Regions from separate parts of the Homo sapiens genome. Here region 2 is linked to region 1. The links come from fine-mapping of genetic effects on gene expression. A gene starts in region 1. The other region holds a variant in brackets. All regions are shown on one strand. Distances are from middle to middle. Region 1 holds the start of PSMB11 (proteasome subunit beta 11). Region 2 holds the start of C14orf93 (chromosome 14 open reading frame 93).

What was found. PIP is the estimated chance that this variant, and not a neighbour inherited with it, causes the effect.
Region 2: its variant is fine-mapped to the expression of PSMB11 in testis (GTEx, PIP above 0.99).

What each region holds. Positions count from the first base shown.
Region 1 is chr14:23,037,088-23,046,931 of GRCh38, reverse strand. It overlaps PSMB11 (proteasome subunit beta 11), which reads right to left and starts at 4,720. Exons shown (of 1, transcript NM_001099780.2): 1 at 2,872-4,720. The coding sequence starts at 4,706. The coding sequence ends at 3,804.
Region 2 is chr14:23,008,315-23,018,158 of GRCh38, reverse strand. C14orf93 (chromosome 14 open reading frame 93) reads left to right here and starts at 8,016. Exons shown (of 7, transcript NM_021944.4): 1 at 8,016-8,058. It overlaps LOC124903286 (a long non-coding RNA gene), which reads right to left. Exons shown (of 2, transcript XR_007064075.1): 2 at 9,175-9,844. RefSeq lists a silencer at 7,678-8,027 and an enhancer at 9,655-9,844. The variant C/T (reference allele first, on the strand shown) is at 4,964.

The sequences.
Region 1 (9,844 bases):
CCTTCTAGATAGGGGAAGACTTGGGTTAATTCCATGAGGGAGTAAGGAGATGATGACTCTGCCCCACTCTCACCACCAACTTTCTGGGTCCTCTGTTGGTCTCAAGCGGTCCAAGAAAATTAAGATATAAGGATTCAGCCAGGCGCGGTGGCTCTTGTCTGTAAATCCAGCAGTTTGGGAGGCTGAGGCGGGTGGATCACTTGAGGTCAGGAGTTCAAGACCAGCCTGGCCAATGGTAGAAACCCCATCTCTACTAAAAATACAAAAAATTAGCAGGGCATGGTGGCGCATGTCTGTAGTCCCAGCTACTCAGGAGGCTGAGGCAGGAGAATCACTTGAATCTGGGAGGCGGAGGTTGCAGTGAGCCAAGATCGCGCCACTGCGCTCCAGCCTGGGTGACAGAGCGAGACTCTGTCTCAAAAAAAAAAAAAAAAAAGATATAGGGATTGGTCAGAGGGCAAGATGGGCAGGAGAAGTAGAGGGTGAAGTGTGAGAGCTGCTGAGAAGAGGGCCGGAGGGATAAAAGACTAAGAGAGGAAGGGGGATTCTGGACTAGGAAAATAATGGGGGTGGCAGGCAGCAGCGGGGACAAACCAGCCTTTCCTGGGGCTCGTAGTGCCAAGTGGGGAAAGGGCGGACCAGAGTGAGACAGTCACATTGAATCTGGGCCCGCTGCTCCCACCTTTAACTCTCCCCTAGGCCATGGTCTTAGTCTTTGCAGAACACAAAGGAGGAGGGAGAGGACCAGGGAGGCAGGCTGTTGACGGACAGAAGCAGTCAACTAGGTGGGAGCTGAGCCAGAACTGCAATTATCTCCCAAAGTCCAGAGAAGGGGTCCACCCAGGAACCAGCATGAGAGCTCAGGCCTCTCAACTCCAGGGCTCCAGAGGCACACACAGGTAGGCGAGGTAGGATAGGTCCTTGTGACTCCCCCTTCGTATGGGGTACTGGCAGCTGGGGAAAGCTGCTTCAATGTGAACATACCTTCCCTCATACCTTCCCCACCTGCTTGATAAGGACAAGCAGGAGGTAGGAGAACAAGGCCCCTCCCTCTAGTGCTGGAATTCAGGTCATTTACTCTGCTGAAGGCTGGAAGCCTGGACCTCTGACAGTCCAAGGGCTTGTGCAAGAGCGGGCTATCCCCCCGAACTCTCCAGAGACTGTGAGGAGGTAGGCACCACCCCAAGCAGGGCATCAGAAGGACAAGGTCTTCTGGTTCGGGGCAGGAAGGGGAAGATCTCCGCCCCTTTGGTCTCACCGTGATATCTGTATCAAGCCTTCAGGAATTAGTAGAGAAATGGGGGAAATGACTCATGGGCTACTCTTAGACAGTGAGGGGTGCATTGGAATGGGATGTTGGCCTTTGTCTACCCAGCCCTCCCTAAGACTCTCCTAAGGTCCTCCCCCAAACTCATTAAAAACATAGCGGAAAATAATAGGGCAGAGGGAACCAGGCTTGTCAGCCAGACCCATGGGCTCATCTCTGGCCTCAACTACCTCAACCTCTGGAAGGACAGGACCTGTCAAAGGGAGTGAAGATGGGTGGGACTATGGAAGGAAAAGAGAGGAGGGTCCCCCCACCCTGAGTTCTGCCCTCCTGGTCTGGTTCTGCCCTCTTGGTCTGAGTTCAATTCTCCTGCTTGAGTCTGGGAATGGGGGTGAGGCGCCAAGCATCTCAGGGGGAGACAGCTGCACGCAGTTCACAGCCCACCTTTGACTGCGCTCAGGTGGCAATCCCAGGTCCCAGGCCACCCCTCCCTGCCTGTCTTTTCTCACTTCCTGAGAGGCTCAGGATAGGGCTGGGAGGATGAGGAAGTAGAGAACTGCTGGCATGAGCCTGTCCCCCACCTCCTCTTTACTCTGGAGCACTCCCCAAAAGAAGTGATAAGGCCTGGCAGTCTTCCCGCTGAGAGGCTGATCTCCTTATTCAGGTGTCGCTCTTTCTCTTTCAGTCTGTTTCTTGTCTCTGCACACAGGAACTGCACACGCATCGCCTGCCACACTCGTGTGAATCCCATCCTGTATCACTCACCTACACCTGGGCACAGAACTACATACACCTGTGGACATGAATATGCACCCTCTTATGCCGAGTCAAACACCTGAACGCCATGCAAAAGCTGCCCCTCCTCACATGCTTCCTCCAGGACTAGGCCACTGGGAGCCCTGCCTCCCAGTTAGCAGTCCCAGAGTCCCACATCTCCTCCCCTGAGGCTGGGGAGTGAGCAAGGGGTAAAGAAGGGTGGCCGCAGAGGCCACTGGCCAGATTCCTTGAGCCTGGCTTGAAGGCCAGTCCCCCCAAACTGGACACCTTTCTGTGGTGTCCACCACAATTCCTCCCCACTGTGTCCTTTCTGGGGTTTTCCCTTCTGGAGCCCCCTGACCTTTCCTCCCCCACCCCAGTCACCCGCTCTGCACCAGAGTCTGGAGGTCTGTCTGCCCAGCTCCTGCCTGGAGGAATGCTTAATCTGGGGTGCAAGATTAAGGCTCGGGCCTAGGCTGGAGCCAGGGATGAGGGGTGTCCAAGAGGGAAGGCAGGCGGCTGTTATTCTTGGGACTGGAAGCTTTAGGATTGGATGTGAGGAAAGCAACTTCAGCACCCTTCCTTCAGGCCCTATCTCGTAGGTTAACAGTGCTTTCTCTCTCATTTGGCCAGGGGACAGCAGGGCAGTGGCCCTCCTGGAGGTGTTAGTCTGGATCTTCAAGTCTGGGCTTCTAGGGGAGTGGGAGCAGGGACAGGAGGGGCAGGAGAGGATGTGCTAGCCAGACAGTTCCCACTGGCACAGCCACCTCTCTCTTGTCTTCATTCTCCAGAGGGAGCATCAGGAAGGAGGGGCTGGAAAGAAGGCAAAGGGAAGAAAGGAGGAGGGGAAGTCTGGCAGCGGCACCGCCAGGCCCAGAAAGCTGGAGAGCAAGGGTGGGCTGTGGGGGATGGCTCCAGGCCTGGAAGATAAAGCCACATGAGCCACCAGGCAGGGGACTGGCCTAGCTACTTTCTCCCTCCACATCCCTCTCCGGAAGCCTGCAGGGAAGAGAGGAAAGGCAGGGCAGAGGGCCTGGGAGGGGGAGCTGTGCTGAAAGAGCATGGACCCTGGAGGAGAAGGCCTGGATCTAAGTGTCATCCCTGCCACTTACTGTGTGACCCTGGCAAGCCACATAACCCTTTGAACCTGATTCCTCTTCTGTAAAGAGAGACTCATTTTTACCTCAAAGGGTTGCGATGAGAACTGCATTCAGTAAAGGGATAATCATTCTAGTCATGATGGTCAAGTCAGAGAAGGAGAGCAGATAAGACAAGCCCATCACCATCCAAAGGGTGTCTATCACTACGCCTCGTTCTGAGAGGGGCTGCTCCCTTCCCGGGTGCCCCATCTTACCATGCTGACAAAGTGATCAGGAGAAAAAGACAAAGACGCTGAAGCTGAGACACATAAAGGACCGAAACTAAGAGAAACTGGGGATGAGATGATGGAAAAAAGCAGAGAAGATGGCAAGAAAAGAGGGTCTAGCACCTAGCATGCGTCTGGCATGCAGTAGGCACACTGCAAGTGTTGAATGAAAGACGGACTTGGTGCCAAGAAGGAGGCTGGACCAATCCACTGGGAGTCAATAGGAACTTGTTGGGCAGAGCCATAATAGCTCTGGGAGTCATGAAAGGATGGAGACTTGCAATAAATGAAGCCAGCAACCCATACAGGCTAGAGCCAGACGCTGTGAGGCTGCTGCCAGCGGGACCCTCCCCCTGCTGCCCATCCTCCCACCCACTCCCCAGGCCTACACCATCCCCAACCAAGTCCTGCTTCTCACACCGTCTCAGTCCCTGCTGGCATCCTGGAGTCTCCTGGTGTCACCTCCCCTGGCCCCACAGAGAGCTCTCTATCTTCTGCAGCTCTGTGGGCAGTGGCAGGCTCAGGATGGGCATGGCTGGCATCCTCCTCTGGCTCCGGCTCCAGGAGCTTCTGTAACTCCACGTACAGCACACAGGCATCACTGCGTGACACATGCTCCCATCCACTCTCCCGCACGTGGAAAAGGTCTACAGAGCCCCCTGAATAGGCATCACGGTGGGTGGCGTGGGCCACGGCGCAGCGAGCCAGGGCGTAGGCTTCCTGGGTGCTCATGTCGTAGCGATAGCCACGGTCTAGCACGCCGTAGGCATAGGGAGATCCAGAGCCCACAGAGAAGATGTCCCCCTGCAGGCGGGTGCCGTCGCTATAGACGTAGAAGAGCTCAGGGCCAGAGCGGTCCCAGCCGCAGAGGGCAGTGGCCACACAGAGATCCAGTCCCCGGTATTGAGACATCATGGCTGACAAGAGCTTGGCAGCACTGGCCACACTGGGCAGCTGACCCTCCCTCAGTTCCCGAAGCCGCAGCTCCCGCTGTAATACCCGATACCAGGTAGCACAGTCGGCAGAGGTGCCAGAGGTGGTACCCAGGAGGTGCTGGTGCACAGGGATGACCTTGCATGAGGCTGGACACGCCACATAGCTGCCACAGGAGGAACGCGTGTCAGCTGCAGCAATGACTCCATGACGGAAGCGGAAGGCCAGAGTGGTGGTGCCGTGGGCCAGTCTGGGGCCATGGATCTGCAGGAAGGTTTGAGGGTCACAACCCCGGGGCACAGCCCAGCCGCCAGCCCGAGGCAGGTGAGGTGATGGTCCCTGGGTGTCAGGGGACTGCCACTTGCACACATCCTGCAGAGCCATCCCTGGGGCTGAATGAAGTTTGGAAGAAGCAAGCCAGGAATTTGTGGCTGGGGTCTGGTGGGATAGGAGGGACGCTACAGAGAAGCTGGGCCACAGCCAGAACCGGCCAGGAAGGTGTGTGAGCTGACGCTTCATTTCTCCTCAACCCCCAATTCAGGCTTTGGGATTGGCTGATGGAGCAGCCCCCTTCATCTCAGAGGACAGCTGAAAGGAGACAGGATGAGGGCTGTAGAGTCTCCAGCACTAGGAAGACGCTGCCTTCACGGTCAGACCTTCACCTTCTGCTGCCCATGACGCATCTGAGAGTCACCCAAAGAGTCTCCTGTCTGTCATCCTCCAACTATCTGGAGTTGGGCGGGGGGGGCTGGGGTAATGCAAAGAAACATGAGCACAAATGGATGGAGCAGGGCTGGGCTCCTTGTTTCTCCCATGCGGGGCACTGGGCACGTAGAGACAAATAAGGCCCTGTCCCTGGCCTGAGAGGGCTCCCAGCCTAGGACGAGGTAGACAATTCAGTGGACTGATGTGGTCAGAATACAGCGCTGTAACCCCACTGAGGCAGGAGACCTTGGTGCTGGGGACTCCCTTCAGAGATATGGGAGCAAGGAACTCAGCTCATACTTCAAACTCAAGGGAAAGATGGGGAAAGAAAAATGGACTGAGGCTGGGCACAGTGGATCACACCAGTAATCTTAGCACTTTGAGAGACCAAGGCAGGGGGATGGCTTGAGCCCAAGAGTTCGAGACCACCCTGGGCTACATATCAAGACCCCCATCTCTACAAAATATGTAACAATTAGCCTGGGACAGGCTCGGAGGCTCATGCCTCCCAGCACTTTGGGAGGCCGAGGCAGGTGAATCACGAGGTCAGGAGTTCGAGACCAGCCTGGCCAATATGGTGAATCCCCATCTCTACTAAAAAATTAGCTGGGTGTGGTGACGCACACTTGTAGTCCCAGCTGCTCAGGAGGCTGAGGCAGGAGAATTGCTTGAACCAGAAGGCGGAGGTTGCAGTGAGCTGAGATCGTGCCACTGCACTCCAGCCTGGGTGACAGAGCGAGACTCCATCTCAAAAAAAAAAAAAATTAGCCAAGCATGGTGGCACATGCCTGTAGTCCCAGCTACTCAGGAAACTGAGGTGAAAGGATCACCTGAGTCCAAGAGGTCAAGGCTTCAGTGAGCCGTGATTGTGCCACTGCACTCCTGCCTGGGCGACACAGTGACACCCTGTCTCAATAAAAAATAAAGGAAAATTTAAAAAAATAAAAATAAAAAAGGCCGCACATGGTGGCTCATGCCTGTAATCCCAGCACTTTGGGAGACAGAGGCGGGCGGATCACCTGAGGTCAGGAGTTTGAGACCAGCCTGGCCACCATGGTGAAACCCCCGTCTCTACTGAAAATACAAAAAAAATCAGCCGGGTGTGGTGGTGGATGTCTGCAATCCTAGCTGCTTGGGAGGCTGAGGCACGAGAATCGCTTGAACCCGGGAGGTGGAGGTCGCAGTGAGCTGCCATTGCACTCCAGCCTGGGCAACAAGAGCGAAACTCCATCTCAAAAATTAATTAATTAATTAATTAATTAAAAGTGGACTAAAGCAAAGACGAGAAAAAAGAGCAAGAGAACTTTGTAACAGCGGAGAGGAGAAAGAGGCTGAAATATCTTCCACAAAGGCAGATTGCTGAGGAATGAAGGAAACTAGAACCTGAAGGTCTCTTTCTCCCTTGCTTTAGAGATAAATATGTCCTTCTATCTGTATACAGAGAAGGCATTCCTGACAGTTCTCTGGCAGTATGCCTTTGACTTGTGTTGAAGTCCAAAGGATCTAGTGGCCTTCTAGCTCCTGCTCCCCCTTCTGCCTAATAGTTCACAATGGCAACAGAGTGGCTTGTAATTCCAGGGCAGGAGAAACAACTGATCTTAACTCCATAATGTTGAGTCTATAAGTCTTAGACCAACCAGGGGTGTTAGAGTGGTGGGGTTGGTGGACCCTGATAGCTGACCCTTCAGAAAGTCGAAGTCAAGGCCAAGTGTGTTGGCTCACGCCTGTAATCTCAGCACGTTGGGAGGCCAAGGCAGGTGAATCACTTGAGCCCAGGAATTCGAGATCAGCCTGGGCAACATGGCGAAACCTCACCTCTACAAAAAATACAAAAAATTAGCCGGGTGTGGTGGTGTGGACCTGTAGTCCCAGCTACTTGGAAGGCTGAGGTGGGAGGATCACTTGAGCACTCACTGAATGAGGCTGCAGTGAGTAAGATTGTGCCACTGCACTCCATGCACTCTAGCCTGGGCAACAAAGTAAGACCCTGTCTCAGAAAAAAAAAAAAAAATAGCCAGTTAATTGGGGCAGAGTGACAAGCTGCAACTACTCCAGCAACATATGCCGTACATATATTATACTAAACATTGCAGCTCAAGGTGGTGCTGTGGAAATGGATTTATTTGAAGAAACAGACCCACACACAAAGGAAAGAGTCTGGACCCTCCAGACATCATGATGGTGGGGCTGTGGCATCATAGCTTTCTGGGGTCTCACTACTAAGGAAAAGTGTAAACCTGGTCATGGGAAAGTTGGAGAAACTCAAAGAGCATGCTAAGGTCCAACCAGTCCTTCTCTTCTCCTTGGTGTAGGACCACCAGGAAATCTTGCTGAAAGGTAAGGATATATCTTCTTTCTTTCTTTCTTTTTGAGACGGAGTTTCGCTCTTGTCATCCAAACTGGAGTGCAATGGCGTGATCTTGGCTCACTGTAACCTCTGCCTCCCAGGCTCAAGCGATCCTCCTGCCCAGCCTCCCAAGTAGCTGGGATTACAGGCACCCCCAACACACCCAGGTAATTTTTGTACTTTTAGTAGAGACAGGGTTTTGCCATGCTGGCCAGGCTGGTCTCGAACTCCTGACCTGAGGTGATCCGCCCACCTGGGCCTCCCAAAGTATTAGGATTACAGGCGTGAGCCACTGCGCCTAGCCTAGAGTATATCTTCTTTCTAAAGGCTAAGTCTCAGACTCTTTATAGATGGATTGCCACCTCCCTAGATCAAGCCATTATCAAGTCAGGTCTGGACAGTTGAATGACCTCCTAATTAAGCACTCACCAGTCTCCCATTGTAATCTTACCCTCTACATGGACATGTTTTCCTAAAGTATCACTCAAATCCTGTGTTTTCTCTGCTAGAAAAACTTGGAGGGTTATAAGATAAAATCAAAACTACCTCTTCTATCCCAAGCTGGCACGTAAGACCCACTATGGTCCAACCTAAATCTATCTATCACAGGCTCTTTTCTCTCTATTCCTAACACACCTCCCACCTCCCTTTCACCTGTTTGAATCCTATTCCACAGTCTGGCTTAAGTACCACCTATTGTGAAATTCCTTCCCAGGTATGGGCTGAGAAAGGAGAGGCTGTGAGTGCACCAAGTCAGATTTAGAAAAATGAATCCAGACCTTGACAAAGCCATCCTGGACCTACAGCCTCTTTCCAATCTATATTGACTCCCTCGCCCACCTCTGAACCACAGCATTTATCATTTGTACTTCTCCTTAATGAGGTCCCCAGGAATAGGGACCCTGGAGCAGAGAACGCATGTGAGGTAAGTTGGGAATGGATTATGGAAGGCCTTGAATGCTATGCTGAGGAGCTTGAATTCACAAAACTTTTTTTTTTTTTTTTTTTTTTTTGAGACGGAGTCTCACTCTGTCGCCCAGACTGGAGTGCAGTGGCACAATCTCTGCTCACTGTAACCTCTGCCTCCCGGGTTCAAGCAATTCTCCTGCCTCAGCCTCTAGAGTAGCTAGGACTACAGGCGGTGCCACTACGCCTGGCTAATTTTCTGTATTTTTAGTAGTGACAGGGTTTCACCGTGTTAGTCAGGATGATCTTGATTTCCTGACCTCGTGATCCGCCCACCTCGGCCTCCCAAAGTGCTGGGATTACAGGCGTGAGCCACCGCGCCTGGCCCACAGAACATTTTTAAGCAGGTGAGTGTTAAGATCGAGATGATGTTTTAGGCTGGGCGCAGCGGCTCACGCCTGTAATCCCAGCACTTTGGGAGGCTGTGGCGGGCAGATCACCTGAGGTCAGGAGTTCAAGACCAGCCCGCCCAACATGGCAAAATCTTGTCTCTACTAAAAATAGAAGAAAAAAAATTAACTGGGCCTGGTGGCGCACGCCTGTAATCCCAGCTACTCGGGAGGCTGACGCAGGAGAATTGCTTGAACCTGGGAGGCAGAGGTTGCAGTGAGCAGAGATCGTGCCACTGCACTCCAGCCTGGGCGACAATAGCAAAACTCAATTAAAAAAAAAAATGGTGTTTTAGGAAAACGAATCTGATGCTGTGCAGAATGAATTAGAGAGTGACAATTTAGACCCATAAATCAGTTAGGAGAAGGCCAGGCATGGTGGTTCACACCTGTAATCCCAGCACTTTGGAAGACTGAGGCAGACAGATCGTCTGAGGTTGGGAGTTCAAGACCAGCCTGGCCAATATGGCAAAATCCCATCTCTACTTAAAATACAAAAAAAAAAAAAATTATCCAGGCAATTCATCCTGGCTAACATGGTGAAACCCCATCTCTACTAAAAAATACAAAAAAAAACAAAAATTAGCGGGCATGGTGGCGGGCGCCTGTAGTCCTAGTTACTCGGGAGGCTGAGGCAGGAGAATGGCGTGAACCCGGGAGGCGGAGCTTGCAGTGAGCCAAGATTGTGCCACTGCACTCCAGCCTGGGTGACAGAGCGAGACTCCGTCTCAAAAAAAAAAAAAATTATCCAGGTATGGTGGCACACACCTGTAGTTCCAGCTACTTGGGAGGCTACGGCAGGAGAATCACTTGAATCCAGGAGGTAGAGGTTGCAGTGAGCCAATATTGCGCCACTGCACTCCAGCCTGGGCGACAGAGCGAGACTCCATCTCAAAAAAATAAAATAAAATAAGGAGAATATTTCAGCAATTCCAGAATGAGGACATAAGAAGCCAAAGGTGGTATCAGTTGTAATGAAAAAGAATGTGAGAAACACTGAAGTGGAAATAATCAACAGGACCATGCAACTAACTGGATATGAAGGAAAGAAAAAAGCTGTAAAAGATAAGCAAGGACTTCAAGCCTTTTTGACTAGAAGACCACTGCTGTCATTC
Region 2 (9,844 bases), 29 kb after region 1:
GTATCCTCACATGGTCTTTCCTCTGTGCACCACAGGTATCTCTTTGTGTCCAAATTCCCTCTTCTTATAAGGACACCAGTCAGACTGGCTCTACCCTAAGTGCCTCATTTAACTTAATCACTTCTTTAAAGACTCAGTCTCCAAATACAGTCGAATCCTGAGGTACTGGAGGTTAGGGCTTCAGTATATAAGTTTTAGGGGAACACATTTCAGCCCATAACAATCACTCTATTTATTATTAGTTTACTAATTAATTACAAATGGCAAATATACTTCTACAACAGAGACGTCTAGCAGACATGAATAAACTTGCAGTCACCAATAATAGAACAAACTGACATTATATGCCTCTTGATGTGATACAATAAGAAGTATATAAAATTACCTAAGTAATATTCTCGCTAAAAATGTTTAACCTTGGCCCTGATGTGGTGGCTCATGCCTATAATTCCAGCATTTGGGGAGGCCAAGGCAGGAGGATCCCTTGAGCCCAGGAGTTTGAGACCAGCCGGGGCAACATAGGGGGATCTTGTCTCTACCAAGTAATAACTTTTTAAAATTAGCAGGGCATGGTGGCATGCACTTGTAGTCCCAAGCTACTCAGGAGGCTGAGGCAGGAGGATGGCATGAGCTTTGGATGTCAAGGCTGCAGTGAACTGTGATTACATCACTGCACTCCAGCCTGGGTGACAGAGCAAGACCCTGTATCAAAAAAGAAAAAAAAAAAAAAGCTTAACCTGAACCTAATCACAAGAAAACAGATAAATCAGATTGCAAATAATGTCCTGACTCTTCCAGTAGAAACACCACGAAAAATTCACACACACCCACATGGCAAAGGAGCACAGCACTTAGGTGCAGTGCTGCAGAATCCTGTCCCACGCATTGCAAATGAGCTTGTTCTCGGTCTTGGGACACTTGTGGATGTACCCTGTATCTTCACAGTACTTGATTTTCACAGTAACTGGTTGCCAAGGAGAAAAACCATAAAGGCACCTATAATCCCAGCACTTTGGGAGGCCGAGGTGGGTGGATCATCTGAGGCCAGGAGTTCGAGACCAGCCTGGCCAACATGGTGAGACCCCGTCTCTACTAAAAATGCAAAAATTAGCCGGGACTGGTGGTGCATGCCTGTAATCCCAGCTACTCAGGAGGCTGAGGCAGGAGAATCGCTTGAACCCAGGAGACAGAGGTTGCAGTAAGCCGAGATAGTGCCACTGCACTCCAGCCTGGGTGACAGAGCAAGATTCAGTCTAAAAAAAAAAAAAAATTAGTTGGGCGTGGTGACGGGTGCCTGTAATCCCAGCTACTCAGGAGGCTGAGGCAGGAGAATTGCTTGAACCTGGGAGGGAGAGGTTGCAGAGCCAAGACCATGCCACTGCACTCCAGGGTGGGCAAGAGACTCTATCTCACAACAAACAAACAAATAGAAAACATAAGGGGTACAATTTCACAAAATCATTAGGTTTTAAGATGAGTGTGTGTATTTGAAAGTTTTGTGATGATTGTTTCTTTTCTTGTAGGTTGAAAGAAGCTCAAAGGCAAGAATGTTACTTTTGAATTCCCAAAGTTTCAATTGTAAACAAAAATGACTAAATAAAATATCATTCACAGTTTCATGTTTGTTTGTTTGTTTAGACAGAGTTTGGCTCTTGTCGCCCAGGCTGGAGTGCAATGGCACGATCTTGGCTTGCTGCAACCTCTGCCTCCCAGGTTCAAGTGATTCTCTTGCCTCAGCCTCCCAAGTAGCTGGGATTACAGGCACACACCACGAAGCCCGGCTAATTTTTGTATTTTTAGTAGAGACGGGGTTTCACCATATTGGCCAGGCTGGCCTCCAACTCCTGACCTCAGGTGATTCGCCCACTTCAGCCTCCCAAACTGCTGGGATTACAGACGTGAGTAAGCCACCGTGCCTGGCCTGTTATAGCATTTTAATTTGTTTTGTTTTGGTTTTTGACACTTTTTTTTTAACTGATCTTAAGATGTTCCAGTTGCTTCTACAATTTTTATCAAATTTTTGCATCTAACAATCAAATTCAGATCTTTTTTCTTTAAAATCGAATCTACTTTCACTCCTGCTACAATACAAACCCCTTCTCTCTTCCTTGAGGGCTGTTCTCTGCTGCCTGCCGTCTTCCTTTTCTGTTGTTTCCTTTGCATTACCTTCCACCTTTCTGTACCCTTTCTCAACTCTGAATCTCAGCTCTCTCATACTTTCCTCTCCAGTGTCTCTTAGGACATATTCTCAGCTAGCTGTAGGATTTCCTTCCACTCCTATTCTAAGATGCTCTCCCATGTGTTAACGAATGACTGTCGGAAACAGCTTCCCGGCCTCACTCTAGGGGAAGTTACATTTCACTGTAGGGGAGGCCTCTTTCAGATCTCATTGAACAGAAACAGCCTAAAATAAAAGATCTGCTTGATTCAAAGCCAAATTAGTGATTTTCCTCAATCGACAAGTCATCTGTAAAGTCTAACATTTGAAATTTCAGATGTTTTAGAGTGAAAATTGTAATTTTTAGGTGAAAATGGTATATTCTCCCTATTCTCATTACCTAACAGCACACAAGTTCATTACTCAAACCTTCTACTCAAAGATTCTCCTATGACCATGGGGAAAATAGAAATTTAGGCCGGGCACTGTGGCTCATGCTTGTAATTGTTTGGGAGGCCAAGGTGGGAGGATCACTTGAGCCCAGGAGTTCGAGAACAGCCTGGGCAACGTAGTTAGACTCCATCTCTACAAAATATTTTAAAAATTAGCTGGGCATATTGGCACACACTTGTAGTCTGAGCTACTCGGGAGGTAGAGGCTGCAGTGAGCCATGATTGCACCACTGCACTCCAGCCTGGGTGACAAAGCAAGTGATCCTGTCTCAAAAAGAAAAAGAAAAAAAAAAAGTCCAGGCGCGGTGGCTCAGGCCTGTAATCCCAGGACTTTGGGAAGCCGAGGCGGGCGGATCACCTGAGGTTGGTCGAGGTCGAGACCAGCCTGACCAATATGGAGAAACCCTGTCTCTACTAAAAATACAAAATTAGCTGGGTGTGGTGGTGCATGCCTGTAATCCCAGCTACTTGGGAGGCTGAGGCAGGAGAATTGCTTGAACCCGGGAGGCAGAGGTTGCGGTGAGTCGAGATCGTGCTATTGTACTCCAGCTTGGGCAACAAGAGTGAAACTCTGTCTCAAAAAAAAAAAAAAGACATGGCTTTTCCAACTTAACTTTGACCTTTGTAGTAATGGACTCATAATTAAAAATATATCCCAGGAGACTGTATGGCAGTTATGAACATTCCATTGATCATCAAAGTGAAGACAGCTTGTCTTTCATGGACAGAACGAGAGCAAAAGAGGGTAACAGCAAGGCAGAGTGGGTTTCAATTTAGACAGAGACTAATGAATAGTCAAGAGCACAGGTTCTGTAGTGAGCACACCTGGGTTCAAGCTATGATTCCACTAGTGACCACCATTGAGTTAATTAGCTCAACAACCTCTAGGTAACTTACCAATCCCCCTCTAAGTCTCAGTTTTCTCCTCAGTAAAAGAGGGAGTATAATAGTACTTATCTCACAGAATTGATTAAATGAGATACAGAGTGCCTGGCACCAAGTAAACTCTCAATAACTGTTGATTTTAATAATTATTAACATTTCTGTTTTCCCTTTATCCTAACATTTTTGAAAATATATCACCTGTGGCTGGGCACAGTGGCTCATGCCTGTAATCCCAGCACTTTGGGAGGCCGAGGCAGGTAGATGATCTGAGGTCAGGAGTTCAAGACCAGCCTGGCCAACATGGTGAAACCTGTTTCTACTAAAAATACAAAAAGTTAACCGGGTGTGGTGGCAGCCTCCTGTAGTCCCAGCTACTCTGGAGGCTGAGGCAGGAGAATTGCTTGAACCCAGGAGGCGGGGGTTTCAGTGAGCCGAGATTGTGCCACTGCACTCCAGCCTGGGCAACAAGAGCAAAACTCCATCTCAAAAAAAAAAAAAAAAGAAAATATATCACCTGTGCATTTGAGAATATGAGACGTCCTAGTACATTCTCATCAAGAGTTAATATTTAATATTTTCCTAGTGATCTCATGGCTTTATTTATTTATTTATTTATTTTTTGAGACAGAATCCCACTTTGTCACCCAGGCTGGAGGGCAGTGGTGGAATCTCGGCTCACTGCAACCTCTGCCTCCCAGGTTCAAGCGATTCTCCTGCCTCACCCTACAGAGTAGCTGGGATTACAGGTGCACACCACCACACCTGGCTAAGTAGCTGGGATTACAGGTGCACCCCACTACACCCGGCTAAATTTTGTATTTTAGTAGAGACGGGTTTCACCATGTTGATCAAGCTGGTCTCGAACTCCTGACCTCAAATGATCCACCTGCCTTGGCCTTCCAAAGTGCTCAGATTACAGGCATGAGCCACCACGCCCAGTTAGGCTTGTGTTATTTTTTAGAAGTTTAAATGAAAAGCATATAAAAAGAAACACATGTTGGGCACAGTAGCATGCACCAGCTATTGGGGAGGCTGAGGCAAGAGGATCCCTTGAGTCCAAGAGTTTGAGACCAGCCGAGGCAACATAGTGAGGTCCTGTCTCTAAAAAGAGAAAAAAGAAACACAGAAAGTCTATAACCCTTGAGAAAGTAAACACTAGCACCTCATTTTCAGGTAAAAGGCAAATCTATTGCCTAAGCTAGGGTGCTGCTAGGGTGAAAACAACACTGAAGGCATTAGGCCTTTCTGCTGAGAACTAGATCCTACCAACAATGCCCTGGACGTTGAGAACCAACAATTTTATGGACGAGGCCTGACTGATGGCCAGTGTCAAAATGTGTGTGTGAGTGTGTGTGTGTATGTTGAACAGCTTGATAAGACAGCTGGCTTGGGGGTTCAGGTCTGTCGCCTATTAGCTATGTAAATTTGTAGTAAGTACTCTCTGAACCTGTTTCTTGTAAAATGGTGA[C/T]GCCACTAATCTAACTTGGCTACAATCAAATTATCTAATATCCAGGCCATATTTAATTTTCCCAAGTATCCTGTTAGTGTCCAGGATAGCATTTTTTCTTCTGACCCAGATCATACTTTGCATGTAGTTGTCATGTCCCTAGATTATTATTATTTTTGAGACGAAGTCTTGCTCTGTCACCCAGGCTGGAGTGCAGTGGCACCATCTCGGCTCACTGCAATCTCCGCCTTCCGGGTTCAAGTGATTAATGTGCCTCAGCCTCCGGAGTAGCTGGGACTACAGGCATGCACCACTACACCCAGCTAATTTGTGTATTTTTAGGAGAGACAGGGGTTTCACTATGTTGCCCAGGCTGGTTTCCAACTCCTGAGCTCAAGGGATCTGCCGTGCCGCTTCGGTCTCCCAAAGTACTGGAATTACAGACATGAGCCACTGCGCCCGGCCAAAAAAAATTTATTTTTAAGTGGCACGATCTCAGCTCACTGCAACTTCTGCCTCCCAGGTTAAAGGGATTCTCCTGCCTCAACGTCCCAAGTAGCTGGGATTACAGGCGTGCGCCACCAAGCCCAGCCAATTTTTGTATTTTTAGTAGAGACGGGGTTTCACCATGTTGGCCAGGCTGGTCTTGAACTCCTGACCTCAGGTGATTTGCCTGCCTCATCCTCCCAAAGTGCTGGGATTACAGGCGTGAGCCACCACACCCGGCCTTATTATTTTATTATTATTATTTTTTGAGATGGAGTCTCGCTCTGTCCTCCAGCCTGGAGTGCAGTGGCGCAATCTTGGCTCACTGCAACCTCTGCCTCCTGGGTTCAAGCAATTCTCCTACCTCAGCCTCCCAAGTAGCTGGGACTACAGGTGCGCATTACGATGCCCAGCTAACTTTTTGTATTTTTAGCAGAGACGGGGTTTCACCATGTTGGTCAGTCTGGTCTCGAACTCCTGACCTCGTGATCCGCCTGCCTGGACGACAGAGAAAGACTCTGTCTCGAAAAATAAAAAATAAAAAAAAAAAATAATAATAATAATACCTAAATTGATGCACATAAAGTGTTCAGAACAGTTACTTCCTGCACAATAAGTGTTCACAAATTGCTACTTACTATAGAAGGGAAATTCTTGTGAGATGTGAGTTTCAGAATCTGTGTTTTAGCTAGAAAAGAAATTCACTTATTTGATCATAAATGATTTTTGGCCCGGCATGGTGGCTCACGCCTGTAATCCCAGCACTTTGGGAGGCTGAGGCTGGTGGATCACGAGGTCAAGAGATCCAGACCATCCTGACTAACACGGTGAAACCCCGTCTCTACTAAAAATACAAAAAATTAGCCAGACTTGGTGGCGGGCGCCTGTAGTCCCAGCTACTCGGGAGGCTGGGGCAGGAGAATGGCGTGAACCTGGGAGGTGGAGCTTGCAGTGAGCCGAGATCGGGCCACTGCACTCCAGCCTGGGCGACAGAGCGAGACTCCAGCTCAAAAATAAATATAAATAAATAAATGATTTTTTTGGTCAGTGTTTACTAAATATCTACAATTATGCCAGCTACTGCAGTAAGAATCAAACAGTTCCTGGATGGAAAAACAATTTTAAGATATGATCACTGACCTCAAACAGTTTACTGGAGTGAAATTACTAAAATATGTGAATCAAGGTAGAGTTACGTGCCGCTAACTGGAGTACACATGAAATTCATGTTGATGGGAGCGGAGAGAAGGAAGTAAGCAGTCTGTGCTGAAAGAGAATGGATAAAAATTGACCAGTCAGGGAAGGGGAGACGCATAATTCAGGCCAAAAAAAAAAAAAAAAGCCACTTGAGTAAAGGAATAATACAAGATTGATAAGACGAGCGTAGAGGGAACTAAGAACAAATATGTGCCCAGGCGCGGTGGCTCACGCCTGTAATCCCAGCACTTTGGGAGGCCAAGGCGGGAGGATAACTTGAGGTCAAGAGCTCAAAACCAGCCTGGCCAACATGGTGAAACCCCGTCACTACTTAAAAAAAAAAAATAGCCGGGCGTGGTGGCATATATCCGTAATCCCAGCTACTCGGGAGGCTGAGGCAGGAGAATCGCTTGAGCCTCGGAGGTGGGGGTTGCAGTGAGCCGAGATCACATCACTGAAAAAAAAAAAAAAAAGGCAGGGTGGGCACATCACCTCAAGTCAGGAGTTCAGGACCAGCCTGGCCAACATGGCGAAACCCTGTCTCTACCAAAAACAAAAAAAATTAGCTGGGTGCAGTGGCGCACGCCTGTAGTCCCAGCTTCTTGGGAGGCTGAGGCAGGAGAATCGCTTGGGCGGGGTGGGGGTGGGGGTGGGGGTGGGGGCGGAGGGGCGGAGTTTACAGTGAGCGAAGATCATACCACTGCACTCCAGCCTGGGTGACAGAGCGAGACTCTGTCTAAATAAATAAATAAATAACAAATAGGTGGGTGGGACCAGATTATGGGTGGCTTAAAATCCAGGTATACCAGCTGTCTTCCTGGAAATAAAGAGGAGCCACTTTAGTTTTGAGAATGTGGTCTGAGCCAGGTAGATAAACTGGGAGCTCGGGCTGAAGTGTAAGACTTCAGAAAGATGTTCCATACGTGAATGTTCATTTAAACGTGGGGGTGTTAAGCAACACACGTGACCCAGAGACATTTCACCTGGAAACCGGAGTAGGGCCCACGCACCAAGTCCCTGATGTTTAATTGCAGTCTAGAATGTTACTGACTAGTTCACTCAATTTAACAAAGTGTCCGGAGGTCGCTCACTGGATTGTTATGCTGGTGACTGGGCCTTGTTTCACTGAGAAAAAAAGATGGGAAAGGGTGACAGGACGGTGAGAAAGTGAAAGGGAGAGAGGTGGGAAAGGGGTCTGCCAAGGTCCAGGCGAGGTTGGGGGTCGGGGGTCCGGCGGCCCTCAGGGCCCCCCCCGCCCCCAACTCCGGGGTTGGCGCCTCGGGCGCGGCGCGTGTGCTTGCGGGCGGGGCGCCCCGCGGCCGCGGACGGCCAATCCGGGAGGGCGTCCGGGGAGGGGCGGGGCTTGCCGGCTCGGGCTCCGCGAGTCCTCCTTTTTGCACACACACGAATACAAAGAGCCATACGACCTTCGGGTATCCTTTTTCCATTTTTTTTCCTCCTTAATCTTGTGTGTGTTTTCAAATTTTTTAAAAATAGAGATCTGTAGCAGTGTTGGGGTGAGGAAACTGTTGCTAAGGGGAATTTGCTCTTTCCCCCATTTCTTTTTCTGTCTCTCTTCCTCTTTCTTTTTCCTGGTCAAGGTTTTAAATATACCAAGAAGTTGAGAAGCAGGATGGCCGTGTACAACCGTTTCCGGCCAAATTTATAGTTTTTTTTTCTTTTTTTTAAATCACATTTTAAGAACTGGTAGATTTTTGTGGTTGAGGGACTTTAAAAATTTAGCCGCTTGGGAAGTACAGAATTTTTTAAGCGGGCTGAAGGGATAATGTAAATTTCTGCCACAGGCAACATCGAAGGAAGCAGAGAGATTTGAGGCTCCCTCATAAAGCCGTTTGCGTGCTTTTTACACACCCACCCCCCCAGAACCAAAACCAAGTGGCTGGGATGTGGCACTTGTCCAAGGCCAATAAGTTAATATTGGGATATTATAATGGAGACATTCATTTCCCTAGGGAAGGGGGAAAGACCTTAATTACAGTGTGTCTTTCACACACATTTTCATTAGAACATTTGTGTGTGTGTGTGTGTGTTTCTTGAAACAAATTTGTAAAGTTATAACTTGGGGTTATTTGTGTATATGTACAATATGTGTGTATATGTGCCATATCAGATTTTATTTTCAAAAGTGATAAATATATCTGGTTTTATGTGTGCAAAGTATCCCCTAGGATGTGAATTTTTTTCCGTTGTCTTCCCAAATGTGATCAAAATATTTTGTGTGCAAAGCAGAGCTTAGAAGAAATCCTATGCTTAGCATACTTAGGCACTTTCTATGTGCATTTACTATATTTTTCTGCTCCTAAAGGATCAGAATAATGAATAATTAAATAATTGCCAAGGAGTATATAGTCCATGTGGCAAATGAGAGTAGGCAATTTATTGAATCTGTGGTTCAAAGCCTTCAGTGACTGTTTTGCCTAAGTGGTTTTGCTTTTTATTGTCTCACGTTCTTAAGTGTACAGCTGTGTATATTTTGGCCTTTATGTGTGGTTTGGTTGGTGTGTTCAGAAGGGAAGTTCTTTCTTGGCTTTTTGACAAAATGGTCGTTTATTGGTTGGAATATTCGAAAAGCTCCACAGCTGGCAAAGTATCAGGAAAAAAATCCAGTCAAGTGTAATTCTCAAAAACTGTTCATGGTGATGGTGATGGGGAGCCAAGAGGATGCAAAGGCAAATAATAGAAGGGATAAGAAATGCCTTTTGGTTATCATGTTGCATTTTTAGAATGGAAAGCTTCTCATTTCTAAGAGTCACAGAAAAAAGTATATGAATTAGAGAAAAACAGGCTCGCAGAGCAGAACCTCCTGTTATAGGAGCCCTATTTTCACTTCATTCTGTTACAGAATCACTATCTCCTCATTAGAAGTTGTATGGAAAATATCTGTATCCAAATTTGTATTCGCAGATTGGAGTGAAAGCATAGGAGGTATATGAGGTGCTGAGGGAGAAACTGGAATGTCACAAATGCAGTGACAACCAGGAGACAAAAAAAAAAATCTACTGTAGAATTTAAATTTCATTACAACAAAACTTCTGTATAATAATGCATTTCTATTACACAGCTAGCATCCTACTCTATTTCAAGCAGTATTTGACTCCTAAATACTGACTGCAATAAAGTTACTTGTACAAATTTATAACAAAAGTGGCCCTGTTTGGGCTTTCTGGGTTTCTTACTTGTGCTGAGTGTATTTTTATT